Regions from separate parts of the Homo sapiens genome. Here region 1 is linked to region 2. The links come from fine-mapping of genetic effects on gene expression. A gene starts in region 2. The other region holds a variant in brackets. All regions are shown on one strand. Distances are between the middles of the regions. Region 1 holds the start of PLBD1-AS2 (PLBD1 antisense RNA 2). Region 2 holds the start of GUCY2C-AS1 (GUCY2C antisense RNA 1).

Region 1 (16,390 bases), 130 kb before region 2:
TGGAAAGATATTCCATGTTTACGGATTTGAGGAATTTTTAAAAAAATGTCCATACTAATCAAAGCAATTGACAGATTCAGTGCAATCTCTATCAAAATACCAATGACATTCTTCATAGAAAGAGAAAAAAATCTTTAAATGTGTATGGAACCTCAAAAGACCCCAAATAGTCAAAGCAATCTTGAGCAAAAAGAACAAAGCTGGAAACATCACACTACCTGGCTTCAAAATATACTACAAAGTTATAATAACCAAAACAGCATAGTACTGGCATAAAAATAGACATATATACTAATAAGACAGAATAAAAAATACAGAAATAAATTCACACACTTACAGCTAATTGATTTTTGACAAAGACACTAAGAACACACATTGGAAAAAATTCTCTTTGATAAATGGTGCTTGGAAAACTGGGTATCTACATGGAGAGGAATGAAACTAGACCCCTTGCTGGGTATTTATCCAAAGGAAATGAAATAAGTATGTTAAAGAGATATCCACACTCTCATGCTTATTGCAGCACTATTCACAATAGTCAAGATATGGAATCAACCTAAATGGCTATCAACAGATGAATGGATAAAGAAAATATGATACATATACATATAATGGAATACTATTCAGCCATAAAAAGGATCAAATTATGTCATGTGTAGCAATGTGGATGAGCCCTGAGGGCATTATGTTAAATGAAATAAGCCAGGCACAGAAAGACAAATACTCCACAATCTCACTCAGATGTGGAATCTATAAAAGCCGATCTCATACAAGTATAGAGAAGAACAATGCTTACCAGCAGCTGGGGAGGGTAGGCAAGGTGGAAAGGGCTTAATCAACAGGTACAAAATTACAGTTAGATAGAAGGAGAAAGTTGCGGTATTCTATTGCACAGTAGGCTTACTATAGTTAACAATACTATATTATATATTTTAAATAACTAGAAGAGAGATTTTTGAATGTCCTTACCATTAGAAAGTGATAAATGTTTGAAGTGATGAATATTCTAAATACCATGATTTGTTCACTACACAATGTATACATGCATCAAAACATCACACTGTCCCCTATAAATATGTACAATTATATGTCATTTAAAAATAAAATAAAACATAATTCTCAAAAATACACATTTCAGAGACACTATGGTGTGCTATTTTTCAAGTCCACATTTCAACCAAAAATTACCAGGCACTACAGTTAACAATATTGTGTTACATATTTCAAAATAACTATAAAAGAGGATTTTGAACGTTCTTGCCATAAGGAACTGATAAATGTTTGCGGTGAAGAATATACTAAATATGTATATACATTGTGTAATGATCAAGTCATGGTATTTGCTATATTTGTCACCTCAAAAGAAAAAGGAAGGTACGACCCCACACTTAAGTCACTGGAAACTGTTTCCAAGTAGGTCTTGATATTGGGTTTAGCGGACAAAGACAAAACAGGAAAATATGGTTTTAAGAGTTACCAGAGAGGGAATCTCAACATAAAATTAGAAATTAAAGAAAGAACAAAATTGAAATTCTAGATCTGAAAAGTACAGTAAATGAAATGAAAAACTCACTGTATACTTCAACAGTAAATTTGAGATGGCAGAAGAAGGAATTAGAAAACCTGAAGATTGTGGCTGGGCATGGTGGCTCACGCCTGTAATCCCAGCACTTTGGGAGGCCAAGGCGGGTGGATCACCTGAGGTCAGGAGTTGGAAACCAGCCTGGCCAACATGGTGAAACTTCATCTCTACTAAAAATACAAGATTAGCCCAGTGTAGTGGTGCATGCCTATAATCCCAGCTACTTGGGAGGCTGAGGCAGGAGAATCGCTTGAACCTGGGAGGTGGAGGTTGCAGTGAACTGAGATCGCATCACTGAACTCCATCCTGGGCAACAATAGTGAAACTTCATCTCAAAATAAATAAATAAATAAAATAAAATAAACAAAAAATAAAACAAAGAAAACCTGAAGATAGAAGATTAATGGGAATCATCCAATCTGAAGAACAGAGAGAAAAAGAAAACTAAATAAAATTTACAAAGCCCCAAAGACTTGTGCAAAAATGTTTAGCATCTGATGGATAAATGACTGGAGTCCCAGAGGGAGAAGAGAGAGAAAAGAGGATGGAAAAAATATGTGAAGCTATAACTGGTGAAAAACCCTTACATTTAATGAAAAACATTAATTTGCAGTTCCTACCAGCACAACAAACTTAAAATACAATAATCACAAAGAAGACCAGAGCTAGCCCACGACAAAGCTGAAGTCACCAAAAATCTAAATGCAGAAAAAAATTAGAGAGGAAAATAATATACTTAACAGCTTACTTCTCAACACACACACACACACACACACACACACACACGCACACACACACTTGTTTTAATTTTTTAAAAGACAGTAAGTTTTTAAGTAAAAAATCATAACACCATATTGGTGTATTTATAACATATATAGATGGAGCATATATATGACAACAATAGCACAAAGGATGGAAGGCACTAAATGGGATAATTACCATTTTAAGTTCCTATATATTTTTTAGCAGACATAATTGCTTATTAACTTTATGCAAATTGTGATGAGTTAAAGATGCATATCACAAGCCCCAGGGACAACAATTTTAAAAATGCAAATAAATATAGCTAGAAAGCCAACTTATTAAAATATAGAATATTTTGTTATAAAACCTTTGTTAAAATGTTTAACACAAAAAAAGACAGGAAAGGAGGAACAGAGAAACAAAATAGAGATGAAATGAACTAAATAGTGAAATGGCAGACTTAAATCTAAATATATAAATATTTACAGTAAATGTAAATGACCCAAACACTTCCATCAAAAGTAAGAGACTGTCAAACTTGATTGAAAAGAAAGCAAAATGTACTAATTATCTGTCTACAAAAGACATACAACAAACACAAAACCACAAATAGTTTGAAAGTAAACAGACATTCCGTTTGTGCTAACAAATTAAAATATGCTTTGATTCATACTTAAACCCGAAAGCAGGAATGCCTACATTAATTGCTACATTAAAAACAGCCATCTACCCTTGATTATCTAGAAAGACTTGGTAATGATGGCCAGTTCCTTTTAGGTTTTAGAAAATCAAATGATGACCTAAATTTCCCTTAATTTGCAAATACAGTAGTAATTAAGGTACATCTCTAAAGTGGAGCACTTACACTAGGCTCTAAGATTCACTCTGAGGTGGAACTTAAAACCAGTATACTGTATGTATGCATTGGTAATAGCGACTTTTGCTTCATAGCTTCATACCAACAAAATATATTAGAATAATATGAAAGTACTGGAGGAGCTGAAAGAAAAACATCCAAGGCCGGGCATGGTGGGTCACGTCTGTAATCCCAGCACTTTGGGAGGCCGAGGCAGGCAGATCACCTGAGGTCACGAGTTGGAGACCAGCTTGACCAACATGAAGAAACCCCATCTCTACTAAAAATACAAAATTGGCCGGGCGTGGTGGCGCATGCCTGTAATCCCAGCTACTCGGGAGGATGAGGCAGGAGAATCACTTGAACCCGGGAGGTGGAAGTTGCAGTGAGCTAAGATTGCACCATTGCACTCCAGCCTTGGCAACAAGAGCGAAACTCCATCTCAAAATAAAAGAAAAAAGAAAAACACCCAACATACACATACGCCTTCAGACTTACAGACTTAAGCTGCATTTATGGGGAAGTGATGAGGTTTAGAACATATATATATTTTGTTAAAATTCCCCAGATGATTCTTGGTATGAACTACTACCGTATAAATTTTAAGATATACTTAGAAATCCTTAAGACATCTAGCCCCATCTCTAATAGACAACACATTTATATTGCAGATATTAATTTTTTTTCAGTTTATGACCAGTTATTTGTGAAGGACTTTTGGCAGGGAAAATATGAATATGCTAACTTTAGCTTATGGCACCAATTTACTAAAGAACAACAGGGTCACCAACTGATCTCAAACATAAAAAAACCCACATCAGTCTGATATGATATTGTGCTACTTTGAATCTGTTACTAGTACCATCTTGACAGAGGATACATGCTCCCAAAACGTTTGTTACCACACTTAAAAATCACTGCCATCATTAAGCATCAGCTTCAAAATTATATCTATCCATGATTTACTTTTTCCAGATGACTACCGTTATTCTAGTCTTTTGAATTTGTAAGGTGAAAAAAAACAAAAACAAAAACTTACGATGCACTTTCCTCCAGCACATAAGATTTCAAATTGAAAATTAAAGACATGCTATGGTAATGCAGTTGCTAGTACTACACACTTTGTACAACAAAAAACAAAGGCAAGAAACTTAATGGAAAGAAAAGAACCTTCCTTTATTGGCCCTTAAACTGAATCAAGATCTGAAATGTAGAGATGATCTCTGACATTTATAACAGATACCTGTATGTTATTTCTGTGTAAATAAAATTGCTGGTATGAAATGACAAAAAAAAAAGAAAGTAAACAGACAGGAAAAGTACAAGATGAAAACAGTAAGCATAAGAAAGCTGGAGTGGTTATATTAATATAAGACAATGTAGACATTAAGGCAAGGAGTTGTACTAGAGACAAAAAAAAAAGACGTTTCATAATGATAAAAGGGTCAATATAGTAGGAATATACCATACTTATGAATGTATGTGCTAAATGATAGAGTATCAAAATGCATAAAGCAAAACTACCAGAAATGAAATGAGAAATATAATCTGCCATGGGATTAGAGAAAAAAGATAAGAAAATGAGAAACAGACAAATTAATAATTATAGTGGAGGTATAAATATTTCTTTTGTAGTAAATGATTAACAAATAGAAAATCAGTTAAGAGTATAGATGACTTGAATTACACTATCAATTAACTTGCACTGACTGACATTTACAGAACACTACACTCAGAAGTACTAGAATTTACATTATTTTCTACTGCATATGAAACATTCATTGAGATAGACTCATGCTGAGCCATAACACAGGTCTCAATAAAGTTAAAAAAATTTGAAATCATACAGAATATGCTCTCTGATCTCAGAATAAATTAGAAAATGCAATTAAATTGGAAAACAGTGACAAAGATCTGAAAAATCTGTAAATTTTTGGAAATTAAACAATACACTTCCAAATAAGCTATGGATTAAATAAATCGTGATAAATTAGAAAATATTCTAAATGGAATAAAAATGAACACAAAATATACCAAAATTTGTCAGATGCACCAAAAGTAGTGCTTATTGGAAAATTTATCATTTTATTTGCTTATGATAGAAAGATCAAAATCAGTTATCTAGTCTTCTACATTAAGAAGCTAGAAAAAATTACAAATTAAATGCAAAGTAAGTAGAAGAAAGAAAATAAATATAAAAATGGAAATTTTATCTTAATAAAGAAGAAAAATGGACAATATCATGAATGATAATGGGGACTTTACAGATCCTACAGACATTAAGAGGTTAAGAAAAACATTATAAATAGCTTCATATCAATAAAAACAATAACTTAGAAAGAAGGGATAAATTCCTTGAAAGATACATTTTTAAAACTAACTCAAGAAGAGTTAGAAAACTGAAATAGTTCTGTAGCAGTGAAAGAAATTAAATTTACAATTAATAACTTTTCAACAAATAAAAACCTTCATATCTAGCTTCACGCGTGAATTCTATTAAACACTTAAAGAAGAAAATGGGCTGGGCACAGTGGCTCACACCTGTAATCTCAGCATTTTGGGAAACCAAGGCAGGAGGATCACTTGAGCCTAGGTGTTTGAGGCTGCAGTGAGCTATGTTCACACCACTGTACTCCAGCCTGGGGGACAGAGTGAGACCCTGTCTTTAAAAATAAATAAATAAATAAATAAATAGAATAAAATAACACTAATCATATACATGCTCTTAAAACACTTAGGAGAAAGAAATAATTCCACATTTAGGATATGAGGATAAGCTTATCCTAAAACAAAAACCATCATAAGAAAAGCAGACTACAAACAAATATGTCTCATGAATGTAAATGAAAAAAATCATTAACACGTTAGTAAACTGAACTAAAAATAAATACAGAGAATAACACATCATGACTGAGGATTAACCCAGGAATTTCAAGTGGTTTAACATCTGAAAATCAATCAATGTAACTTATCATATTAATAAAGGAAAAAATTCATATGATCTTTTCAACAATTGCTGAGAAAGAATTCAGAAAAATGCAACACTCATTTATTGATAAAAATATTAAAGAAAGTAGGAAGAGCAGGGACCTTCCTTAACATTATAAAGGGCATCTACAAAAAATCTGCAGTTAACATCATACTTAATGGTGAAAGACAATACTTTTCACCCTAGGTCAGGAATTGGGCAAGGATTTGCATGCTCACCACTTATGGTCTCCATTATTCTGGAGGTCTTCTCCAGCACAATCATACAAAAAAACAATCAAAGACATACAAGGGATGGAAGAAGTCAAACTGTCTTTATTTAGAGATGTCATGATTGTATATATAGAAAATCCCAAGGAATCTACAAAAAAGCTATTAGAAAGATCTCAGGATAATAATGTACAAAAAAATCGTAATACATTGTGGTAGTTTTCAAATTTCCACAAATTCTTTGGCACCCTTCTCTTTAAAAGGTGGATTCTAATCGCCTTTCCTTGAATGTGGGCTGGTCATAACACCTTGCTTCTAATTAATAGAACCTGGTGGAAGTGAGCGTGTGTGACGTCTGAGGTGAGGTCACAATAGGCATTACTATTTCTGCCTTGTTCTTTTGGATGGCTTCGTCTGGAGCCAGGGGTCTTGCCATGAAGGACATTCAAGCAGTTCTGAGGAGAGGCCCAAGTGAAGAGGAACCAGTTGCCAGCACCACCCTGTCAGCTATGTTAGTAAGTCGTTTTGGAAGTGCATGTTCCAGTCTCAGTTAAGCTATCAGAGATTTTAGCCCCTCAGTCATTGAGTCTTCCAGCTGAGGCCCCAGTCACAGTAGAGACAAATTATCCCCACTGTGCCCTATCTAAATTCCTGATCCACAGAAACCATGAGTAACTAAATCATTATTGTTTTTAGCCACTAATGTTTGGAGCAATTTGTTATGTGGCAATGGGTAACCAATAAATACATATGAGCAACAAACAACTGAAAAAAGAATAAAAAACATTTTGATTACAGTAGCATCAAACATTACTTAGGATTTAACTTACTTAAAGGTATGTAAGACCTAAATACTGAAAACTACATGATATGACTCAAATTAAAGACTGAAATAAACAAATAGATTATATTAGTAGATTGGAAGACTCAATGTTGTTGACAAGTAAATTTTCTCTGGATTGGTTAAAACTATCAGATCTTTGTGCTGAGGTCTTCACACAATTGTATTGGCTGCCATTTCAGTGCCGTCATTTTCTAGTGATTTATCTCTTTGTCTTACCTCCTTGATTATTAATTTGCATTGCCAAAATAAGTAAATGTGTGGGGAGGGCTAGTGCAAGGCTTCTCCATTCCTTACTCAGCCTTAGCTGTTACTAGGCAAACAGACCATGTATTCAAAACCCTTCTTGTTAGGGACAGAAACTCCTAGAACAAGGCCATTCAAAGCCACTTTCCTTTGGGTATCCAGTGCCTCAGGCAAGTGTTTTTTGTTGTTGTTGTTGTTTTGTTGTTGTTTGTTTGTCTTTTTTAACAGGGCCCCTGCCTATATAAACAATTTGATTAAAAACATATATTTAAAAATTCATCAGTACATGTGAGATATGATGATTTATCATTGAAGATTTAGGATGATGGGCAGAGAAAGGCAATCTGTTTTGTCTATTGTCCAATCAGTGCACGTGAAGATTTGTTACAGTATCCAGGTACCATCTCTTTGTATTCTTTATTATTAAATGCATTGTTCTTGGCTAATTTCCTATTTTTTGTTATGAGAAAAAGGTAGCAATACTGTTATTACAAAACCATGACTTT[T/C]TGGAACCTGTTTGTTTTGAAACAACACAGATCTCCTTGCCTCTGCAGTTCCCTAACACCATTTTCTTAATGACTTTGCGACATCTACCACTCTACCTGTGAATCCTGGCTTCTAATGACTCAAAAATCCTTATTATGCTTTGTTAATGATGACCACAAATGCAAGCCTTACCCAGAGTGTTAAAAAAATTGTGAATGATAATTTGTTTTATGGTTACTAAAGCTACACTGGGAATTTTACAGTGTAAACATAGATCGACATGTTTTCTGTTGGACTCTTCAGGCTAATTGCTGCCTCCCTAGAATGTAATCTCTTTGTTGTTGTTCTTGAGACGAGGCCTCACTCTGTCCCCCAAGCTGAAGTGCAGTGGTGCTATCTCGGCTCCCTGCAACCTCTGCTTCCAGGGCTCAAGCTGTTCTTCAGCCTCAGCCTCCCAAATAGCTGGGATTACAGGCATGAGCTACCAACACTCGGCTGATTTTTTTGTATTTTTGCAGAGACGGGCTCTTGCCATGTTGCCCAGGTCTCAAACTCCTGAGCTCAAGATAATCCGCCCACCCTGGCCTCCTAAATTGCTGGGATTACAGGCATGAGCCTGCTTAGCCTGTTTAAATGTTAAGTGCATGTATTTGAAAGTAGGTACATAAAAAGATAAAAGAACAGGCTAAAAGCCCCAGGAAAATTTAAGTAAAGTTTTCATAATTTAAGGCTTCACAATTTAAGTCAAGTCTTCATGAGTCAAATCTCTTTTCATGCTGAACCCTCCCCCACCTTCACTCCTCACCCACGGGCACCAGTGGGTAGGATAGGTGAGAAGCCTATAAGTCGAGCTGGAAGAGCTGTCCCAATCACACCAGAAAAATCCATCTGGCTTAAGACTGACCCAAGACAGTAGGAAGTCACATCACCAACTGCAGCAAAAGATTTGCTGCAAAGGCCCGTTTGTGTTGTGGAGCAAGGTTCTCAAAAGGCCTCAGAGGGGCCAGGCCTAGCCCGCCCCAAGGACTGACCGACACATGGTACAGAGCTGCAGGGGTGAGGAGGCCACGACAGGGGCCAGATGTGGAGCTCATAGGTCGAAGTTCGCTTTACCGTCCTCCCCTGCTGCATGCTGAAACCCGAGGGTAAGAGGTGGTTTTCAGTAGCATAGAGCCCTGAACATATGCTCTGACATGAGAGTCACCCCAGGTCATCGTGTGACCACCGTTCTGACAGCTCAGTTATGCACCATCTTGCAAAAAATATATACTGTGAGGGCCAACTAGAGGAATCTGCTTACCAGGACCAGGCCATAGGCTTGAGTCCCAGAGCTCCTTAGGGCATCTTGTTGAACCCATGCGTGGGCAGGAATGGAGGAGAAGAGCCCCCAGATAGGGAGTCCACATGCGTTGCTTTCTGGACTCAGAGAAGCTGACCTGGATGGCTCTGCCACCTTGGTCAGTCTTGGGCACTAGAAGGGGATTTTGAAATTTTCTGGAAAGGAGCTTTCTAAACTAGATGCACAGAGACACAGGTCAAGATACTGCCAGCCTGGCCAGTCTCAGGATGCTGGAGGGGGATTTAGGTAATTTTCATGAAGGTAATTCCAAGCTGGGAGGGTGGGGTTCCTGTGCCCAGACCTAAGGGTGGTACTGAGGTTATCAGCACCTGGTATACTTTGGTATACTTTTGACCTTCCCTGGGTATTGCATGTTAGCCTCTTTAGGTGAAATAATTTCCTCAATCTCCACTTTGTATTTTAGAAAAGACTAAAAAAGACCAAGCCTGTTAAACAACTCCATCAAAGAAAAACAAGGAAGCCATCCAGCTTTGTTCTGGACTCAGCAGCTAAGATGGCATGAGCTTCATCGTAAAGCATAGTTCTATGTCATGTCTACTGGATGAATCCAATGTGGCTGGTCCCTTAATAAAATAAGTTGTAACATAAATGAGACTGCACATGTTTTCCTGTTTGGTGCTGAGAACAAAGCTGCCCAGTTAGAGAAAATATGAATCCCACTGTTCCATTGGCTCCTGTAAAAATGTTTTGGGGTATATATAAAACTGTCTGTTGCTCTCTTGGAGATTCAATTGCTCCAAAAAGCTCTACATATTATCTATGAAATCTACTTGTGTATCTCATCTGGAAGGATACATATGCAAATGTTAACAGGATTATACGTTTCATAAGAAAATCTTCCATGACCTTCTCCATCACTACCTCTGGGATCCAGGACTGTTAACACTACTGGAGAGCATTGTATTCCACAGAGATTTCAAAGCAGTGCACATAACATCTGAATATTGCATTTTATCACAAAGATGAGGAAGAGGAAGAATACTGGACTGCTCTGTCTCTTGCTGTCCTTAAATGTCAGTGTAATAGAATGTGAAAGAATCAAAGCACAGTCTAACTCAGAGAGAGGAGTCCCCAGTCCCCCTCAATGCTAAAACAACTAAGCAAACTAAGACAAAGATGAAATCAAATTGGTTTCAAAGAAAGGATCAGGTCACAAGGACAGAGAAATACTGGGTTATGCCCTTGGTCAGAATTCCTGATAGGGGCCGGACATGATTGCTCACACCTTAATCCCAGCACTTTGGGAGGCTGAGGCTGGAGGACCACTTGAACCCAGGAGCTTAAGACCAGCCTGGGGAATGTAGCAAGATCCCATCTCCATAAAACATTTTTTAAAAAATTAGTCAGGCATGGTGATGTGTGCCTGTAGTGTCAACTACTTGGGAGGCTGAGGCAAGAGGATCATTTGAGCCCTGAAGGTCAAAGCTGCAGTGGGCTAACATTGTACCGCTACACTCCAGCCTGGGGCGATAGGGTGAGACCCTGACTTTAAAAATAAAAAGGAATTTCTGATAGGAAGAGCAAAATACTCCGACAAAGGTAGATAGATATGACAGGTGGTTGGTATAACCACCCCATAAGTTACGGATGCGTAATTAAAGGTCAAACTGGTTACAGTGTATCCAGTTGAACCCTTAGATGTTTGGTGTTTTCCCCTTGACTTTGCTCATAATGTTTCCTGAGGAGGTTGGGGCTAACACATGCTAACACACATGCTTTGTTGGATTCACAGAGTGAGTTTTGTTGTTTTAAATACATAGTTTTATCTTAAGTTGGAGGGTCTGGAAATTCTTGGATGGAGAACAGACAGTGAGAGCTCATCCTTGCCTCCTTTCTGTGGGTCATATGTTTGCTACCATTGTTTCCACTTTCTCTTTTCTTTTCTTTTTTTTTTTTTTTTTTGAGACGGAGTCTCGCTCTGTCGCCCAGGCTGGAGTGCAGTGGAGTGATCTCCGCTCACTGCAAGCTCCGCCTCCCGGGTTCACGCCATTCTCTCGCCTCAGCCTCCAGAGTAGCTGCGACTACAGGCGCCCGCCACCACGCCTGGCTAATTTTTTGTATTTTTAGTAGAGACAGGGTTCACTGTGTTAGCCAGGATGGTCTCAATCTCCTGACCTCGTGATCCGCCCACCTTGGCCTCCCAAAGTGTTGGGATTATAGGCGTGAGCACCTGGCCTCCACTGTTTTCTTAAACCAGTCCTGCTTTATTCATTTACCTCACCTGCCTATTGCATTTAGGCCCAGGAATTTGCAGCCTCTCCTCTACTGGGACTGTCCTCCCGTCCATCTCTACTTTTTCAAATTCTAGCCATCCTTTCAAATTCTAGCCACTTTGAGATAGCCATGTTCATGGTCTATCTCAAAGGTTGTCCTCTCTTTCCCCAACAATCAGATGTGAGTCTCACCTCCTTGGAATGGACAACACTGGTTACACTTCTTTTGTAGCACATACAGTATCCAGTAATATTATTACTCTTATTCATATTACACTTTATATTGTCCTCTTGAGTATAGTGTAAGGTTTATAAACTTACACATTCATTCATCCATTCATTTGGCAATTTATTAAGTACTCAATGCCACACACTGAGGTTAAGTGCTGTGGATAGTGCAGTAAATAAAAGAAACACTACACGCCCTCAAGGTGGTACCTGAGTGCAGGATCAGCCATGTCTTCATTGCTTCTGCCGCAGAGCCTAGCAAAGAGTCTTGTACTTGATACATACTCAGTTGGCATTTGTTGAAATAAATTTAGATGTAGCCATTTACATTTACAAAGTGTCTTCTATTTGGCAATTCTAGTAACCTTGTTTATGTCATTCTATTAAATAAAAGTATTTGAGCTATATTTCTTCAAAAGCCCTCTGAAAATCAGATTGTTTGTTAATATATACTAACCATTAAACATTTCTTCTCCCATTGCAGTTAACACTGAATCACTAAGGTTTTATCCAGGAATAGTACTCAAAGTGCTCAGATGTTCCTTTAAATTCATTTACCTGGGTAACTGCTGAAAGAGAGGCGACTACTGCTGGTATCTTTATCTATGACGTTGAAGTCCCAGTGTTTATATATCCTGAGCATGGCTGCATACGTGTACCAGCTTGAGTGAGCAAAAAGGATGTTCTCAAATCCAGGAAGAACCTACAGCCAGAATCATAGTGGATTACACAGATGTACATAGCTAACTGACTGCAATTGTCTTAAGTGTAAGAGGCATACAGGGATTGTGCCATTTCAGGTAAGTGTTTATTGCTATACTGATTATTGGAAAATATGGCCAAGGAGTCAAGATTAACCTTTAATGTGGCCCCAAACAGACTCTTCCTTCTAACATTCAAAATGGAAGACTCCAGCTGGGCATGGTGGCTTACGCTCGAAATCCTAGCACTTTGGGAGGCCAAGGCAGGCGGATCACTTGAGGTCAGGAGTTTGAGACAAGCCTGGCCAAAATGGTGAAACCCTGTCTAAACCAAAAATACAAGAAAAATTAACCAGGCATGGTGGCACACCCATGTAGTCCCAGCTACTCGGGAAGCTGAGGCAGGAGAATCGCTTGAACCTGGGAGGCAGAGGTTGCAGTGAGGCAAGCTCACACCACTGCACTCCAGCCTGGGCAACAAAGTGAGACTCCGGCTCAAAAACAAAACAAAACAAAATGGAAGATTCTAGAAGGTGGGAGTGGCAGGTGCATACAGCATGGGAGGAATGGTGGAAGAACAGATGTAACATCGTGTACTTACAATTCTCTCCATCAAAGTTACTTCCAGTTCTTAACTTCTACCATTGAAGAACTCATGAGCTGATATACAGTTATAGCCAGGGGTGATGAGATGTTGCTATACTTGGGCGCTATATAGAAAAAGTCTGTATGAACCAGAACAAGGCAAAAGGAGCTGCTATGTCTTACCTTGATAAGAGCGGAGCAATGTCCCATGTCCCATCTCTTAAAAACCTTTAGGCTGCCGTTTTTTGTGGGAGAGAGTGAGGGAATCAGATCCAATAGATCTCCAACACTATTCAGGAACTGAATCTGGAACAGGGTCATTGGCTAGGAAAGGACAAAGACTGCACTTAACATCGTTTTGTGACAGACATCATTTCCTGTTTTCCTCTTGTTAGGGACCCATTAAATTATTCCCTTGCAGGCTGTGCATGGTGGCTCACGCCTGTAATCCCAGCACTTTGGGAGGCCAACGCGGGTGGATCTCCCGAGGTGAGGGGTTTGAGACCAGCCTGGCCAACACAGCAAAACCCTGTCTCTACTGAAAATACAAAAATTAGTTGGGCGTGGTGGCGGGCGCCTGTAGTCCCAGCTACTCAGGAGGCTGAGGCAGGAGAATCGCTTGAACCCAGGAGGCGGAGGTTGCAGTGAGCCAAGATCGCACCACAGCACTCCAGCCTGGGCAACAGAGCGAGACCGCATCTCAAAAAAAAAAAAAAAAAAAAAGTTATTTATTTTCGAAGAGTCTCTAATTTAACAGGTACGCTAGATTTTTATTGTAGCTTATAAAATAATTGTTATGGCTTTATAGTTTAAAAGAGCTGTTTTGGCATGTTTTGATAGCCCCAGAATTTGGGAGTGGCTCCTTGGAGAGTAAAACAGAGCTTTCTGTTTGCACTCTACAGCAGTGCTTCTCAACCTTGGCACTATTGACATTTTGAGCTGGCCGATACTTTCTTTTCAGTTGTTGTGCGTTGTGAGATGTTTAGCGTCATCCCTGGCCTCTACCCACTAGGTACCAGCAGCAACTTCACAGTTGTGGCAACCAAAAATATCTCCAAGACTTTGCCAAGTGTCCTCTGGAGAGAAAACCACTCTTAGACAAGAACCACTGCTATACAGCAAAAACATTCAACTAAGATGCTTTTGGTTTTGATTGTGTGTTTACTATAAGACTAACTGACCAGCCAGCATTGACTTTGAAGCAATTATCAGATTGTACTTGAACATGAACTTTGTGCAAACTGGAGAGCACGGCTCCAGGAAGATTCAATCTGCTGGAGCAGGTCCGGGTTAGGCATCAGCAAATTGGTTTTGGGGTAGAGGTGGTGGGAAGACAAACACAAATGACATTTTAACCAAAAAACTAAAACCAAAGCAAAAATTCAATCCAATTTTTATTTATATAAATATCATCTCTGTTTTGTTTGTTTGAATAAATTATTCATTTATTAGTCAAGATTTAAAAAAAATTATAACAAAGTTTATATCAGAAAGTCTCCTCCTTTACCTGTTCTCCATTTTCTCAGGTACTACCATTTCTAGTTAATCATTTTTACTAGTTTTTTTGCATATACTGCCAGAGTTTTTTGATTTTTTTATTTTTCCCTACTGGCACTGTGATCTTGGATCCAGAGTTTTAAAAATGTCTTGTAAATAAAATTTTTAAAAACATACATGGTAGTGTGTCATATGTGCTGTTGTTCACCTTGATTTTTTTTGTCTTAGTATCTTTCATTTAATGTTTTGGGGATATTTTTATATTGGATGTAAAAATTGTCCTCACTCTTCTTTTTTTAATTATTATTTATTTATTTATTTATTTTTGAGACAGAGTTTCACTCTAGTTGCCCAGGCTGGAGTGCAATGGCGCGATCTCAGCTCACTGCAACCTCCGCATCCTGAGTTCAAGCAAATCTCCTGCCTTGGCTTCCCAAATAGCTGGGATTACAGGTGCCCGCCCCATGTCCAGCTAATTTTTGTAGTTTTTTGTAGAGATGGGGTTTCACCATGTTGGCTAGGCTGGTCTAGAACTCCTGACCTCAGGTGATCCACCCACCTTGGCCTCCCAAAGTGCTGGGATTGCAGGTGTCAGCCACTGCACCCAGCCTGTCTTCACTCTCCTAAGCAGCATTCCAACGTACGGATGTATTATAATATTTTTAACTACTCTTTTTTGATGAATTTTCAAGTGGTTTCTAGTCTTTTGATATTGTAAACAATGCCACAATAATTAATCTTGGACGCTTCATTTTGCTTGTGTTTGAGTCTATGTGTAGGATAAATTCCTAGAAGTGATTTAGATTTTAATAGATATTGCCAAATTGTCCTCATACGAATTGTTTAAATTATACTCTTCTGGCCGGGCACAGTGGCTTATGCCTGTAATCCCGGCATTTTGGGAGGCCGAGTCCAGTGAATCACCTGAGGTCAGGAGTTCGAGACCAGCCTGGCTAACACGGTGAAACCCCATCTCTATTAAAAATACAAAAATTAGCCGGGCATGGTGGCGCATGCTTGTAATCCCAGCTACTCAAGAGGCTGAGGCACGAGAATTGCTTGAGTCCAGGAGGCGGAGGTTGCAGCTGAGATCAACCACTGCCCTCCAGCCTGGGTGATATCGCGAGGCTCTGTCTCTAAATAAATAAATAAATAAATAAAACTCTTCCATCCTCAACAACATATTAAACATTTAGTTTATTTCCAATCTCATAGGTGCAAAACAGTATCCCATTGTAATTGATATTTGCATTTCTTTTGTTATACTGTATAATACATCCATACATTGGAACACTGCTTAGAAGAGTGAGGACAGATGATATTATACATCTGAAAGAATAAAGATGTATACATACCATTTAAGGAAAAATAAATAAACACTGATGTAGTCAACTCACAGTTTACGAAATGGAACATTAGCAGTGCCTTGGAAGTCTCCAATCTCATCTCTCTCCTTTCCCGCCAGCGGTCACCACTATGCTAAATTTTGTATAGCTCATTACCTGCCTCTCTATTATTTATCATCTATATATAATATATTTATCATCTATATATATTTTTAAGATATATTTTTTAAAATCTACCTTTTTTGAATTTGCACAAATACAGTCATATTGTGTGGGCTGGGTGCAATGGCTCATACCTGTAATCCCAGCACTTTGGGAGGTTGAGGCGGATGGATCTTTTGAGGTCAGGAGTTCGAGACTAGCCTGGCCAACATGGTAAAACCTCATCTCTACTAAAAATACAAAAATTAGTTGGGTGTGGTGGCTCAAGTTTGTAGTCCCAGCTACTCGGGAGGATGAGGCAGGAGAATCACCTGAACCCAGGAGGCAGAGGTTGCAGTGAGCCAA
Region 2 (16,390 bases):
CTACTTGGCACATATCCTGCAATGCTACTTAAGTCTTGTCAAATACCTGCCAAATTGAACCCATTCTTCAACAGGTAAGGTAGGCTTTACCTTGAGGCTAACATGATTGGTCTCATTGGTCTCCAGAGGAAAGATATTTTCAGGAGGAATGTGGGACCATTTTTTCTGACGAAGTTCATAATCTTTTCTATATTTTCTGTGAAAGGAATAAAACTGGTCAATAGGTTTTTATTAATATCCATGTCATTCAGCTTCTGAAGACTGGGTGAAGTTTAGAACCCTGGTATGCTCAGGTAGATATGTGTGAGGGAAGGTAGCCCAATGACAGAACACCATGTCCTCCAAACTGAAAAGCGCTTACTGCCAGTGGACCTGCAAGGATTTCTGATGGGCTTTTATAGCGGTGGCCCTCAACGTTTTTGACACCACGGACTGGTTTCCTGGAAGACAATGTTTCCATGGAGGTGGCAGGGAGTGGTTTCAGGATGAAACTGTTCCACCTCAGATCAGGCATTAGATTCTCATAAGGAGTGTGCAACATAGATCCCCTGCATGCGCAGTTCACAGTAGGGTTCACGCTCCTATGACAATCTAATGCCCTGACTGATCCGACAGCAGGGGGAGCTCAGGCGGTACCGCTCGCTCACCCGCTGCTCACCTCCTGCTGTGCGGTTGGTTCCTAACAGGCCATGGACTGGGGTTTGGGGACCCCTGTTTCCTAGTCTTTCTTTTCTTTTCACTTCACTTTCCTAGGTTTTTCACTAAGGCAGTCCTTCACAATACTAAAGGATTTAAACTGATGACATAGAAGGAGTGAGGAAAAAATACAGGAAAAAAATGTAAAGTTGGTGACATTGAGAGGCAAAAATGTTAATTTTTAATCCAGAGAGAATACACCAGATCCCTAAATAAGCCAGTTCCTCTTACCCATCTGTGCCTTTTCAAAAAATATGTTTAAAGAAAATGGAAAAGTACAGAGAAAATGTAACAACACCTATCTCAACTACAAAATGTTAAAAATGTATAGTTTCCTTCAGATAGTATCGGTCCCCAGATAGTGTAGGTTGGGGATTAGGCCCCCAACCCCTGGGCCATGGACTGGTACTGGTCCGTAGCCTGTTAGGAACCAAGCTGCACAGCAGGAGGTGAGAGGTCAGTATTACCACCTGAGCTCCACCTCCTGTCACATCAGTGGTGGCGTTAGATTCTCACAGGACCGCGAACCCTATTGAGAACTGCACATGTGAGGGATCCAGGTTGTGCACTCCTTATCCTTATGAGAATCTAACTAATGCCTGATGATCTGAGGTGGAACAGTTTCATCTCAAAACTCTCCCCACCCCCAAAAATTGTTTTCCATGAAACCAGTCCCTGGTGTCAAAAGGTCGGGGACTGCTGGTATAGATGAAGCAGAATTCTTGGGCTATAGACGATGTACACTTTCGACTTTGCAGATATCACCAAATTGCTTCCCAAAGCAGTAGTTATCAATTAATTTACCTTCTTATCTTGAGAATTCCCATTTTCTATATTCTTGTCAACATTTGGTATTGATAAACTTTTTTTTAACCTTTATGATGAAGGTGAAACAGTGTTTCATTATTGCATTACTTTGCATTTTCTTGATTACAAGTGATATTATCCTTTCAAATATTTTCTAGCTATTTAATAGAGTATATAGACTCAGAATTATATAGAATTATGTATTTATAATTTTGCTCATTTTTTCCTAGTGTGTATATTTTTCTTATCCTTGTTAACTTACATAAGTTCTTAATATATTTTGAGAAATAAATCCTTTGTCCCTTTAGTTTTCAAATACCTTTTCCTAGTTTATGACTTCCTTTAACTTTGTTTTACAGAAAGTTTTGATTTTATTATCGTCATATTTATGTATTTTTTCTTTGACTTTTCCTTTTTTATCTTGACTGAGAACTACTTTCCTAAACTGAGATCATAAAGTCATTTTTATTGGACAGGCACAGTGGCTCACACCTATAATCCCAGTACATTGGGAGGCCAAGGTGGGTGGATCACTAGAGGTCAGGAGTTGAGACCAGGCTGGCCAACGTGGCGAAACCCTATCTCTACTAAAAATACAAAAGTTAGCCAGGTGTGGTGGTACACGCCTGTAATTGTACCTACTAGTGAGGCCAAGGCACGAGAATTGCTTGAACCCAGGAGGTGGAGGTTGCAGTGAGCCAAGATGGCGCCACTGCACTCCAGCCTGAGTGACAGAGTGAGACTCGGTCTCAAAAAAATAAAAATAATTTTAAAAAGTCATTTTTATTAATTTATTCTAAGTTTTGAAGCTTGATTTTCACATAATCAAACATTTAAAACATTTAAAACTCCACATAAACTATGCATTAACATTTAAAACTCCACAGAGTAAACTATGTCTTTGTGTATTATTTTAGATATATAATAATAATAAAATACAACATAATACAATATAATAATAAAAATAACTATTTTCATTTATATAATGCTTAGTATATGGTAGTTTGTGTGCATGTTCCATTTCTAATCCCTACAACAGCTCAGATGAAGAAATTGAAGCTAAGTTACCTGTTTTAATTTTGTTTTTTACATGTGGAAAGCCTACCTTACCAACATCATTTCTTTCTTTTTTTTTTTTTGAGACGGAGTCTTGCTCTGTTGCCCAGGCTGGAGTGCAGTGGTGCGATCTCTGCTCACTGCAACCTCCGCCTCCCGGGTTCAAGATCTTCCTGCCTCAGCCTCCTGAGTAGCTGGGATTACAGGCACCTGCCACCATGCCCAGCTAATTTTTTGTATTTTTAGTAGAGATGGAGTTTCACCATGTTGGCCAGGCTGGTCTTGAACTCCTGACCTCATGATTCAGCCACCTCGGCCTTCCAAAGTGCTGGGATTACAGGTGTGAGCCACTGTGTTCGGCCACCAACATTATTTCTTAGCTGTCACATACTGTCATCTTTGTCATATTATAAGTTCTTGCTTGTATCTGATTCTGGAACTGATATTCTTTTCTATTGACCTGTTTTGTCCCTGTTTGCCTTTGCTTTTTGGTTATTTGACAAACTCATTCTCACCTTCTCAAGGCCATGCCTTCCTTAATGTCCCCTAAGCAGAAATGATTATTCTCTTTGTATGCTTCCATCTAAGTCTGAGTATTCTTCAAGTAAATGCATGTAAAATAGCATATTACTGACCCTAAGACCTGGAGGCAAGTAGGATGAATATCAAGACCTTAAAGGCTCTTGGGTTCTCAGCTCTGTACCCCAGGAGACTCTTGGGACCCAGCAGAGCCAACTGTCATTCATACTGAATTAGGGGATTTCTTAAATGGTTTGCTAGTTTTCTTGCATAGGCTGTTGTAATGGCAAACTGCATGTGTACCACCTGTCTGCCAGGCCCCCTCATGGGCATAGCATTGCACTGGTCATTAGGAAGCCCCATCTCTGCCTGCCATGTTTAGAGACAATGAGAAACACCTGTTATTATCTTTGATCTTGTGATTTACCCTATCTTAAAGTGATTCCCATTTAGATTTGCTTTTGGGGGAAAATTTTGGTTTCTTCTCACTCTTCACTAAATGGTCACCACACATTGTAGACCATCACCTGTATTTCTGAGCAACACAGTTACAGGAGCCAAGCGGTGTTGTCAGATTGAAGAAAATAGTCTACTTCCTTTTCTGGAGAAAACATCAACCAGTATATGGCAGGCTGGACATTCACATGAGAAAGTATAATGACACACAGACCAAAGTGTGTAATACACAGATAAAACTGTTGTCTTGTTTAGCTAGGAAGTGCAAGTGAACCTGGTAATATAATACAGTATTATAAGTTTGGCATTTAACATATGCAGATTAGGATGTAGTGTGGTATTTACTCACTCATTTATGTATTCAATAAATATTTCTTAGTACACACAATGTCTCTGGCTAGGCATTTGGCAGACCCAAGTTGAGCAGAAAAATCATGGAACTGATGGTGAGAAGGCTTGAGTTCTAGTTCTGGCCCCACCCACTACCTGGTGATAAGACTCTAGAGAAGCCATTTGACTTTCTGGGTTCTCTTTCCTCAGGCTAAAATAGGAGATTTGGAATAAATTGTTTCTAAAACCTCTCCCAGTCTAAATATGTAATTTAATGAGTTTGATGTCTCCCACAATATAACAGCATAATAAAAATAACTATTTTATCTATATATGCTTATTATATGGTAGTTTGTATACATGTTCCATTTCTAATCCTTACAACAGCTCAGATGAAGAAACTGAAGCTAAGTTACCTGTTTAAGTTGCTAAGTAACACGCTTAAGACCACAGAACTAGTAACTCAAAGAACTGGGATTTGAGTTCAGGCATCTTTGGCTTCAAAGCCCTAATCTATTCACTCAATAATATTCTGCCCTTCAGTTAGTCTTTGATGCAGAATGTCTTCATTATCTTAGGTCAGTCTGCAGGCTTCTTTGTGAATATTCATCATCATCAACAGACAACAGACCTCTCCCACTTTCCCTTCCTGCCTCTCTGGATACCGAACACAGGCATGATAGAGGCGGCTGTACCTGAGCATCAGGAGAGCGACGAGCAGGAGCAGCACCACAGCTCCAGTGAGGGTGAAGACTGCAATCATCAGGATCTGAGGGCCTGTGGCGGAAAATGCGTTAGGAAGGACCTTAGACAAGAGAGCAAAAGCATTTCCAAGATTCTAGCTGTACAATGTAATTTGGGGAAGGGAAAAGAGAACCCTTTAAAAAAATTTATTTTTTATTAATTTCTCTCTGGTAATATAAGTCCTGTGTCCCTACTCTCTGACAGCCTTGTCTGGCATTGTACCCAGGGAAAGTGGCTTAATTTTGGCTATTCTGACAGCATATACATCTCTATTCTTTCTAATAAGAATCACCAAATGTTACACAAACATAAAATAGTTTAGAGCACGTACAAAAAAGTTGGTGGTAGAAGTCTACCTGGTGTCCTTGAAACCAATATACCTAAGAAGGGTTCATAGAGGATGAGACATGTATTTTTTTTTCTTTTTGAGACAGAGTTTCACTCTGTCATCCAGGCTGGAGTGCAGTGGCGCAGTCTTGGCTCACTGCAACCTCTGCCTCCCTGGTTCAAGTGATTCTCCTGCTTTAGCCTCCCGAGAAGCTGGGATTACAGGTGTGCGCCACCATGCCCGGATAATTTTTGTATTTTTTGTAGAAATGGGGTTTCGCCATGTTGCTGGCCATGAACTCCCGGCCTCAAGCGATCCGCCAACCTCAGTCTCCCAAAGTGCTGGGATTACAGGCATGAGCCACCATACCCAACTAAGACAACTTGTTTTTAAATACAGAGCACATGCCGGAAGAAAAGTAAGTCAGTATAGAATATTAAGTGACAGTGTTGCATGCTGGTTCTTTCCAAGCTCTCCTGGGTTAGTGAGGGAAGTCAATGAAGAATGGGATTTTATTTACTAGAACACTAGTGGGTGGGTGGAGTTGTATAGATGGAGTAAGTGGAAAGACTCTCAGAAGAGTAAGTGGAATCCAGGAAAATGTGGATCCAACCCAAGGAAGCACTGAAGCAGTGTCTGAGTATACAAAGGAATACTCCTACACAGAGAAGGACAGCAACAAGAAGACTGCACGGGAAAGTCGTGGTTCATATATGCCGCAATGAATTCCCTATTAGGAAGTCAGTAGGTTCAAGAAGAAAAAATGGAATAGATTCCAAGCAATAGACAGAATGTGTAAGAAGCTGGGAAGTGATAGGAGTATGGTGAAGAAGACATGTTTCTTTATACAGCAAGGAAAGAAAAGAGAAATCCAATCAGGAATTCTAAGGAAAAAATGTTCAAGGAAGGCATAATCCAAAAATGAAACAAAGTAAAATGTGCCCTGACTTTGAGAATTAGGTATTAAAAAAGGAGAGAAAATCAATTTTCCTTTGTGGTACAAAAGGGAGACATTGGGGCTATATAGAAAGATGTTGGCCGGGTGCGGTGGCTCATACCTGTAATCCCAGCACTTTGGGGGGGCTGAGGGGCCGATCACCTGAGGTCAGGAGATCAAGACCAGCCTAGCCAACATGGCAAAACCCCATCTCTACTAAAAATACAAAAAATTATCTGGCCGTGGTGGTGGGTGCCTGTAATCCCAGCTATTCGGGAGGCTGAAGCAGGAGAATCGCTTGAACCCGGGAGGTGGAGGTTGTAGTGAGCCAAGATTGCACCACTGCTCTCCAGCCTGGGCGACACAATGAGACTCCGTCTCAAAAAAAAAAAAAAAAAAAGAAAGATGTTATCACGGTATACAATTTAGCTTTATATAAATAATATTCACATAATGAAAATGTTTCCTTGTTTTCAACTTATAGAATCAAGTTATAGGTAAAGAACAGAGGTCTTTATTTTGGTTACCAAATAAATATTATCAACCCTGGCAAAGAAAAATATAGGAGAATTTTGGAGATGGGAAGGAGGTAGAAGAAAGAATTGTGGCACTAACATCTTCATCTTACAAAGTGGGAGGCAAGATATTTTATATACAATTGATAGGACAACACTAGAAGCTCATGCATATTAATTAAAATGAAAAAGGTGTTCAATAATTGTACCGACAAAAAAGATATAACTATATGGGAAGAAGTGAGAAAGAGGGCTAGCGAAGATGAGCTAAATCTTCATGTATCAATACAAAAAATTAATAGATAACTGCTAAAGCTTATAAATCAAGAAATAGAAGCATATTATTTAGATATGCAAAACAGTAAAAGCAGAAGTGACTGAGAGAGCAGAGATGCACAGAGGTGGGATCAGGTGCATTCACTTTCCATTATGAACACATCTGCTACTGGATTTTAAAATCATGTGTGTGAATTTTTCTTTTTATTTTTCTGAGACAGAGTTTTGCTCTTTTTGCCCAGGCTGGCATGCAATGGCACGATCTCGGCTCACCGCAACCTCCACCCTCCAGGTTCAAAGATTCTCCTGCCTCAGCCTCCCAAGTATCTGGGATTACAGGCGCACGCCACCATGTCCAGCTAATTTTTTGTATTTTTAGTAGAGGTGGGGTTTCATCACGTTGGCCAGGCTGGTCTCGAACTCCTGACCTCAGGTGATCAGCCCACCTTGGTCTCCCAAAGTGCTGGGATTACAGGCGTGAGCCACTGTGCCCAGCCATGTGTGAATTTTTCTGTGCTAAAATATAATTGATGTAGGTGCCCCGAAAATGAGGTTTTAGGACTTCTTTATGAAAGCAGAATCCTAAACCTTCACACTGTATTCTCTATCATGACACCATAATCTAAACTCCTGGGGGCACAGTCCATGTCCTACTTATTCATTCCTGTTCATCCTTACACCTTTGGCACCCAGCACAAGACCTGGTAAAGTATCAATAAAAATGGCTAATAAAAAATAATAGAAGAAAAACCTGGCCCTGGTCATCTTATTGCCTGAGAAGAGGCAAGGAGAAGGTGCTTGGACATTAAAATACATAAATAAATTCATATAGAAAGACTCCTGTGCCATTAGGGGTCTCATGTCATATGTATTTTAAAACTGTTTTTGTTTAATCATATTATGTCCTTCTGAAGTAGATGGTTTAGCTTGGGGTAAACACTACAGCTCCTTTGTATAAGGGCTGAATTTGAAGGGTTTATGCTTTGCAGACATGTGACTTTGCCTCTATTACCTTGTTTTGTGTTCATGGGAAATTTTCAATGGTGAAAATGTGAACTTTGGATTTCTACTCTCATCGGGGCAGAAATAAATTCATACTTTGGAGTTGAACTTGCATTATGGGCACATTTAACTGGTGAATTCTGTTTGTTACTACAATCACCACTTCCATCACTATCACCACTATTGCCACTCCCACCATTCTCACGCCCTAAACCCCAGAAAACGAAAGTGAGTACAAGAAATACATTTTCAACAGTGTAGATAATCCCACTCACTGGTCTATCAAAATTGCACATCCCCTAGACTAGAGTATAAACTGGAGGGAATATGGGGACTCCTCAGCCCACCTCAATTCTCTGCCTCCTACAGTATGAACATCTCACTGTATTAGATATAATTATAATATTTATATATAGTATTTAAATATACTATTTAAATGTAGTCATTTTTAATTAAACATGCTTTTCAGTTTTGCCTTTTAGATAAACGCAGTATCAAGTTCTAAATTCCAAGGTTAAGCTTCTGCTGCCTTCTGGTGGCTGCTGTAGTTATCACATTCTATTTAACTCATCTCACAATGAATGAGAGTTTATAACCTCAAGGTCATATGATATTACGGTTGGAAGGAACCTGATAAACTTCTTGATTTAACAGGGGAAGAAACTCACACTTAGAAAAGAGAAATAAATTGACTGAAATTAACAGAGTATAGATGAGTGCTGGAGTCCAGAGTAGAAATATATTCAGTTATCTCATGTTGTCATTCATTCATTCATTCATTCATTCATTTATTCATTCCAAGGCACTGTGTTGGGGCAAGGAAATATGAATAAGAATAAGCCCTGAGGGGGCGCGGTGTCTCACACCTGTAATCCCAGCACTTTGGGAAGCCAAGGCGGGTGGATCACGAGGTCAGGAGTTCGAGACCAGCCTGGCCAACATGGTGAAACCCCGTCTCCACTAAAAACATAAAAATTAGCCGGCCGCGGTGGCAGGTGCCTGTAATCAGTTCCAGCTACTTGGAAGGCTGAGGCAGGAGAATCTCTTGAACCTGGGAGGCGGAAGTTGCAGTGAGCCGAGATTGGGCCACTGCACTCCAGGCCGGGCAACACTGCGAGGCTCCGTCTCAGGAAAAAAAAAAAAAAAAAAAGCTAAGGAAAGTTGAGATTCCGGTTAAATCTTGAGGATGAGTAGATGTTTCCCACCTCTATGGAGAAGTGATAAATTCTATTCCGAGGGAGTAGCATAAATAAGGACACAGCGGCATAAATTTGCATGACGCTTTAAGGAAGTAGGGAGGAAGCTGAGAGCATGGGGAAGGGATAGGTGAGTAAAAGATAAGTAGGGAGATTACGGGCACTTTGTGCTGTATTAAGTAACTTGGACTGTATTCTGTAGGTAAAGCAGAGTTGCCAATTGACATGTTAGCAACAGTGCAGTGACATGATTGGACTTGTGCTTTCTTTCTGATAGCAGGATGGGTTGGATGGAAGTGGGCAGGACTAATGCAGGAAGTCAGTTTGACGTCATTTTTGTGATACAGGAAGCAGATGCTGAGGACTTGGATGAGGACGGGCACCAAATCTGCATTGTCCATTGCTATTTCCCAGGTGCTCAGAACATTGTCTGGCATTAAATAAATATCTTTGTTAAATAAATGAAAGAACAGGGATGGTGTAATCTCTTGGTGAAATGTTTTGTTACTTAGTAGCTGTGTACACACAGATGCAAGTTCCAGTCATGCATATCGTATTTCTATACTATTTCAAAGGTTGAGTTGCTGAAGCGGCTTCATTGTCTGGGGACATACCCAAGGTTCGTCATCGCGTGACGAGAAGATTAAGGACACAGACGCAAACACGGAGCGGGTCAAGTAGCGGAAAGTTTAATAGGCAGGAAAGAAGAGAACAGCTCACCGGTAGAGAGGTAGGAGGGCTCTGAAGGGAAAAAACCATGCTTGTGGTGGGAAGCAGTAGGTTATATAGGGAGGCTTCAGGAGGCGGTGTCTGATTTATATAGGGCCCAGGGGATTGGTTTGACCAGTGTGCCATTTACATAGCCCTGAAGAAACTGGCCCTCTCACCCTAATCTTTTATTATGCAAATGCGGCCTCTACCTGGCTGGCGCCATGACACCCACACATGTGGCTTTACCCGGCCGGCACAATGACACCCCCACACATGGCTACAAAGAAAAGGGAGGGGAAATCGCTATATTGGGTGGACCTGGCTTTTAGTACAGCTGCGGGCATTCATCTACGCAAGCTTCCAGCTTGCTTATTTATGCTTGCAGTTCAGCTTTTCAGGCTGCTTTTTGCTAGAAAAGAAATGGTTTGGAGACTGTTTTCAATTAAAAGAAAATGCCTGGCTGGGCGCCGTGGCTCATGCCTGTAATCTCAGAACTTTGGGAGGCCGAGGCAGGCGGATCACGTGAGGTCAGGAGTTCCAGACCAGCCAGCCCAACATGGCGAAACCCCGTCTCTACTAAAAATACAAAAATTAGCCGGGCGTGGCGGCAAACACCTGTAATTCCAGCTACTCGGGAGGCTGAGGCAGGAGAATCGCTTGAATCCGGGAGGCAGAGGTTGCAGTGAGCCAAGATTGCACCACTGTACTCCAGCCTGGGTGATACAGCCAGACAATGTCTCCAAAAAAAAAAAAAAAGAGTAAGAAAAGAAAAGAAAAAGCCTTACTGAGGACTCCTGTACCCTCGCTACCTGCCTAAATAATTTCTTTTTAACTCCTATATTATTGCTTCATTGGTAAAGTTTAGAGCTAAATGTAGTAAGTAACAGTTAAGTATTGAAAAGCTCTGGCTAACTGAGGTTGTTAGTTAACTGAGGCTGAAGTAAAGTTGCTCAGGATAATATAACGTCCCTGTAGGATATAGTATGAATATTTAATGTTCACTTTAGGAACACTTTTACACTGTTGGTGGGACTGTAAACTAGTTCAACCATTGAGGAAGTCAGTTCTCTTTAAGTAAAGAGAACTCTCTCAAAAAGTACTTTTTGAGAAGTTCAGCACTTTAGAAATCACAGACCTATTGAATAACCAAAATACCAAAAAACTTGAAGGAAATACATTAAAAACACAAACCTAACTTTGTCACTGACAGTTATAATTAAGAAGAAAGAAAAAATAATTTGAACTCAAAAAGTTACAAAAGAAGTTGAGAGTTGCAGAAGCCCATGAGAAAAGAGATATATTTCAGAAGTCAAGTTTGGTTTAAAACTAGAAAGCTTGAAGATGGTTCCAGAAAGTTTTAAAAGCTTATTAAATAAAACTCGACTTTAAAAAGCAATCATAGCAATAAATCTGAAGTCAGCTCAGGATTGCTTATTGTCTAGAAGAATGCCATCTTCATTCCCCCCTCCCTCATTTCGTTAATCAGCTGCTAATACCTGTTGGATAAAAGTACAGGAATCATTTTGGACTTAATTTGACTCATGGAGTGAAAGAAAACTAGAAACGCAGGTATAGCTCTGACACAAGCAAGCCCTTCAAACCAGAAATGTTCCCTTTATATCAGATCAAATTTTCAGAGTTTCTGGCTGTAGAGCGGGGCTGGTATAAAAATATTTGTAGCTTATAATTTTTAATACTTTTTGAAAATAAGAAACTAATACAGAGTCATTGTGGAAATTTTGGAAAATTCAGAAAAATAGAATAAAGCAAAAAAAATCTTGCAGGATCCCATCAGTCAGAGGACACCACTCTTAACAGTTTAACATATTTCTTTCCAGTCTTATTTCTATGCATTGTTTTACAAAGTTAGAATCTCATTAAATAAGAAGCTGTACTTTTCTATTACTTTACATCATAAGTTTTCCCATGTCATTTAACATTCTTCATAAATAATTATTTTTAATTGGTTGCCTGATGCTCCATTTGTGAATATATAATAATTTTCTTTTTTTTTTTTTTTTTTTTTTGAGGCAGGGTCTTGCTCTGTCATCCAGGCTGGAGTGCAGTGGCACAATCATGGCTCACTGCAGCCCCAACTTACTGGGCTCAAGTGATCCTCCCACCTCAGCCTCCTGAGTAGCTGGGACCACAGGTATGCACCTCTATGTCCACTAATTTATATATATATATTTTTGAGACGGAGTCTTGCTCTGTTCCCCAGGCTGGAGTGCAGTGGCGTGATCTTGGCTTACAACAACCTCTGCCTCCTGGGTTCAAGCGATTCTCCTGCCTCAGCCTCCTGAGTAGCTAGGATTATAGGCACGCACCATCATGCCCAGCTAATTTTTGTATTTTTAGTAGAAACGGAGTTTCACCATGTTGGTCAGGCTGGTCTCGAACTGCTGACCTCGTTATCCACCCACTTCAGCCTCCCAAAGTGCTGGGATTACAGGCGTGAGCCACCACTCCCAGCCTTAATTTATAAATGTTTGTAGAGATGGGATCTCACTGTGTTGCCCAGGCTATCTTGAACTTCTGGCCTCAAGCAATCCTCCCACCTCAGTCTCCCAAAGTGCTGGGATTACAGGCATGAGCCACCACGCTTGGCTCTAAATAATTTTATTGATGGTATTTCTACTTTTTTTTTTTTTTTTAAATCTTTGGGCTAAATATCTGTCCAGATTTAAGACTTTTTCTTAAAGATTTTTCCTAGTCACATGGAATTACCACTCATTATGGCAAGCCCTGGCCAAGCCAGTCATGGACAGATTGTCCTGAGGCCTCGTTGCCCAGGAGATCCTGAGTGGCCCTGCCTGCTGCTGATGGTGAGTGTGCAGCTTGCACGGGTGAAAGCTGGCCAAGTCATGTTAGGGCTATTCATGACATGATAGGACCTAATCTTAAGTAGGTGGGTAACTATCATTGCAACCCAAATATGTGTCCAGTATGGGAACAGGGGAGACTGTAAAGGCCAGGATCACTGGTCACCCCTCAGCCTGATATGTCAAGTATTTCTTGCTGAAATACACAACCTTTTAGCTTATTGCAGTAAAATGTAAATGGAGTAAGAATATATGTCTCTGTGCTCATTTTTGCCAGTTGTCAAACCCGGTTTTCTGTGGAATAATTTATGTCAAATGGTAGGACATATTTTAAAGATAGGTATAGCTAAATTAGAATAAGAATGTTTTCTTTCTTTCCTTTTTTTTCTTTTTCTTTTTTTTTTTTTGAGACAGGATCTCACTCTGTTGCCCAGCTGGAGTGCAGTAGAACAAAGATAGCTCATTGCAGCCTCAACTTCCTGGGCTCAACTGGTCCTCCTACCTCAGCCTCCCAAGTAGCTGGGAACACGGCTGTGTGCCACTATGCCTGGGTAATTTTTTTTTTTTTTTAGTATTTTTGGTAGAGACAGAGTTTCACCATGTTGCCCAGGCTGGTCTGAAACTTTTAGGCTTAAGCAGTCTTCCTGCCTTGGCCTCCCAAAGTGCTGGGATTACAGGCATAAGCCACCATGCCTGGCCAGAAATCACTGTTGAATCAGAACTATAATATCATTCATTGTGCAGGGAAGTAAGGACCACATTTACAAACTGGACAGCAGGAAATCAAACTGGGACAGCAGACAAAACACAGCAAAAAGCACAGGCTAATTACATAAACAATAGACTTTACTTTTCTTACCAGGAAAACAGTGTCAGGGAGAGAAAATTCATTAGGGATATCTTACCCCGGCCTGTAATATCATTAGGAAGTTTAGAGTTCTTCCAAGTGAATGTGGGGCTCATATCCACAGGATAGGTCTTATTTACGTGGGTATCATAGGTCAAAAGAACCTTGTACTGTGTCAGGGCACAAAAAAGAAAAAGGATGAACAGTAAAACATTATAGAACAAATTATGGTGAGATTAATGATTCTACACAATGACGCTTGATTTCCATAACAATTCTCAGTGAAAAAAGGCAACTGTTAACCAGCTAGTTAGGATCATTTATTGATTCCCAGCATGAACACAGATATAACTTCAGATGGACCGATTAGTTTCCTATTTCTTTATGCTCATACACTACACCATTAACTCCTGTCTGTCCAGCACAGATTCTGTGGGCCTTTAGTGAATCAGTTCAAGTATTTCATTTTTCAAATGTTAAACTAGAGGCTAAGAAATATTAAATGGCTAGCTCCAAGTCACATGATAAATGAAAGACTAGTGTTTTCCACAATATTAAGTTGCTTTTGAAAAAAGCTCTCAAGAAAATGCAGCAGAGCTAAAATCCATTATGTCATTTTGATACATATCAAGGGGCCCTGAAATAACTACATTTCTTAACTTCTATCCATTACTTAATTTTCTAATCTCTTCTATTCCTTGGCTCTAATATGCTTTTCTTGTACATGACATTAATTAGTTTCTAAAATAAAAGATTTCATTTTCAAGTCATTTGCCAATGGAAATATTAATATATCCTTAAATTACTGCTGCATATATTGAGTCAATTTTGTAAGGGAGATCTGAAAGATGACTGATATGGTTTGGCTGTGTCCCCACCAAAATCTCAACTTGAATTGTATCTCCCAGACTTCCCACGTGTTGTAGGAGGGACCCAGGAGAGGTAATTGAATCATGGGACCGGTCTTTCCCCTGCTATTCTCGTGGTAGTGAATAAGTCTCACGAGATCTGATGGTTTTATAAGAGGTTTCCCCTTTCACTTGGCTCTCATTCTCTCTTGCCTGCTACCATGTAAGATGTGCCTTTCACCTTCCACCATGATTGCGAGGCCTCCCCAGCCTCGCTGGGGAGTCCATGAAACCTCTGAAAAAAATTTTTTTTTTCTCTTTTTTTTGGGGAAGAAAAGGAGGTTTAATTTGACTTACAGTTCCACATGACTGGGGAGGTCTCATAATCATGGTGGAGGGTGAAAGGCACTTCTTACATGGTGGCAGCAAGAGAGAATGAGAAAGAAGCAAAAGTGGAAACCCCTGATAAACCCGTAAGATCTCGTGATACTTATTCACTATCACGAGACTAGCATGGGAAAGACCAGCCCCCGTGATTCAATTACCTCCCCTGGTCCCTCCCACAACACGTGGGAATTCTGGGAGATACAATTCAAGTTGAGATTTCGGTGGGGACACAGCCAAACTATATCAGTGACCATCCTTTTAAATTTACCAGTGTACCCTCAAAATGTTCTGGACAGCAAAGTTATATTTTCTTTCTGCAACCTCTGCCTCCCAGGTTCAAATGACTCTCCTGTCTCAGCCTCCCAAGTAGCTGGAATTACAGGCATGCACCACCATGCCCGGCTAATTTTTGTATTTTTAGTAGAGACAGGGTTTTACCGCGTTGGCCAGGCTGGTCTCAAACTCTTGACCTCAAGTGATCCGCCTGCCTCGGCCTCCAAAAGTGCTGGGAATACAGGGGTGAGCCACTGCACCCTGCCCAATGTTACATTTTCATAACTTTACTCTTTCTTTCTTTTTCCTTTATGTTAGGATGTGGCATATTGAATCTCTGTTGAGACCTATCCTGGATATAGATTATCATCCCTTTAACCTTACATTTTGAGAAGATCTCTGATTTTCCCAAATATACATGTTATATAGCACAACCGATGGTACTACATTATTGAAAAATTCACCCGAATTTGCTTATAGAGAGAATAAATGCACAGAGCAACATTTTCCATTTTGAAGTATAGTTATGAGACTGACATTAGATCTCACACGTTTCTGCCTCTCTCTGTGAAGATCATGGGCATCATCCCAGATGCAAATAACTCAGAGAGGAATGCATGTACCTTTGTAATCGCTATTAGTAACTGAAGTATTGATGGGATCTTATGTTAAGGTATTCTTACGGAATGTATGCGAAACATAACATTATATTGAAGGTTCAATATAGTATCTAGAAACTACGAATTACATTTATGGAATGCTGCTAGCAAATTTCTGGTTTAGCTTTCTCAACGTGGACATCTTTTCTCTAGCTTTTCACATTTTCCATTGCAGATATCTTTTACAAAGCTGGGTTGATGTACACATTTAGTATATGACTTAGACTGTCATAACACTCACATTGGAAAATGAAAAAAAAATGAATAAATTTTATGTTATGTCAGGACCTGACCTCCTATATAAACCTTTTTACTGACCACTTGGTTGGCTGGAACAGTGGCTTTTATAGTTTGGATGGATACAACATTGGATGACATGAAGACAGGTGTTTTTTTTGTTTTGTTTTTGTTTGTTTGTGATTAAATGCTGACCAGCCGTCAATGGTGTGCCAGATAAGAAGCTATGCACTGAAAAGATGGAGAGGTGAGTAGACCACTTATTTTCTTTAAAGAACCTACTATTGGGTGAGGAAAAAAAAGTGAATATAATATGAATAAAAGCATAGCATTACAGGGCTGTTTATGTGGGGCTCAGGTTTACACATTTAATGATTTTCCTGAGAGTTCAAATGGAGATAACAGGGAATATTTCATTGAAATCTTTAGTTGTGAAAATGAGTAAACAATTCTTAGGAAAGACTTGTGATCCTCTCATTGGTATCCCATCAATAGTCTTTTTGTTATATTATGTAATTTATTCTGGGTGGATATTTAAAATATCTATACCTATCTATATGGATATTGATATAGAGGTATAGATATATTAATAGTAAATACAGTGGATATTCTGAGTAAGAAGTTTTATGGGTCAAAATGCTTAAGGAATACTACCCTAAGTGGGGCGTAATTGTGAAGTTGAAATGAACTGTCTTCAGATCCTAAACATAATTTCTCTAATTCTTTTGCTAGTGCTCCTCTTCC

The links. PIP is the estimated chance that this variant, and not a neighbour inherited with it, causes the effect. A credible set is the group of variants that fine-mapping cannot tell apart.
Region 1: its variant is the best candidate, but not a certain one, in a credible set for the expression of GUCY2C-AS1 in whole blood (INTERVAL, PIP 0.80).

The regions. Positions count from the first base shown.
Region 1 is chr12:14,523,347-14,539,736 of GRCh38, forward strand. PLBD1 (phospholipase B domain containing 1) reads right to left here. Exons shown (of 11, transcript NM_024829.6): 5 at 13,224-13,364; 6 at 12,313-12,457. It overlaps PLBD1-AS2 (PLBD1 antisense RNA 2), which reads left to right and starts at 6,793. Exons shown (of 5, transcript NR_187784.1): 1 at 6,793-6,895; 2 at 7,696-7,864; 3 at 12,239-12,554. The variant T/C (reference allele first, on the strand shown) is at 7,974.
Region 2 is chr12:14,656,422-14,672,811 of GRCh38, forward strand. It overlaps GUCY2C-AS1 (GUCY2C antisense RNA 1), which reads left to right and starts at 9,215. Exons shown (of 6, transcript NR_186173.1): 1 at 9,215-9,276; 2 at 9,438-9,592; 3 at 11,608-11,725; 4 at 15,845-15,893. GUCY2C (guanylate cyclase 2C) reads right to left here. Exons shown (of 27, transcript NM_004963.4): 10 at 13,301-13,412; 11 at 4,560-4,641; 12 at 91-196.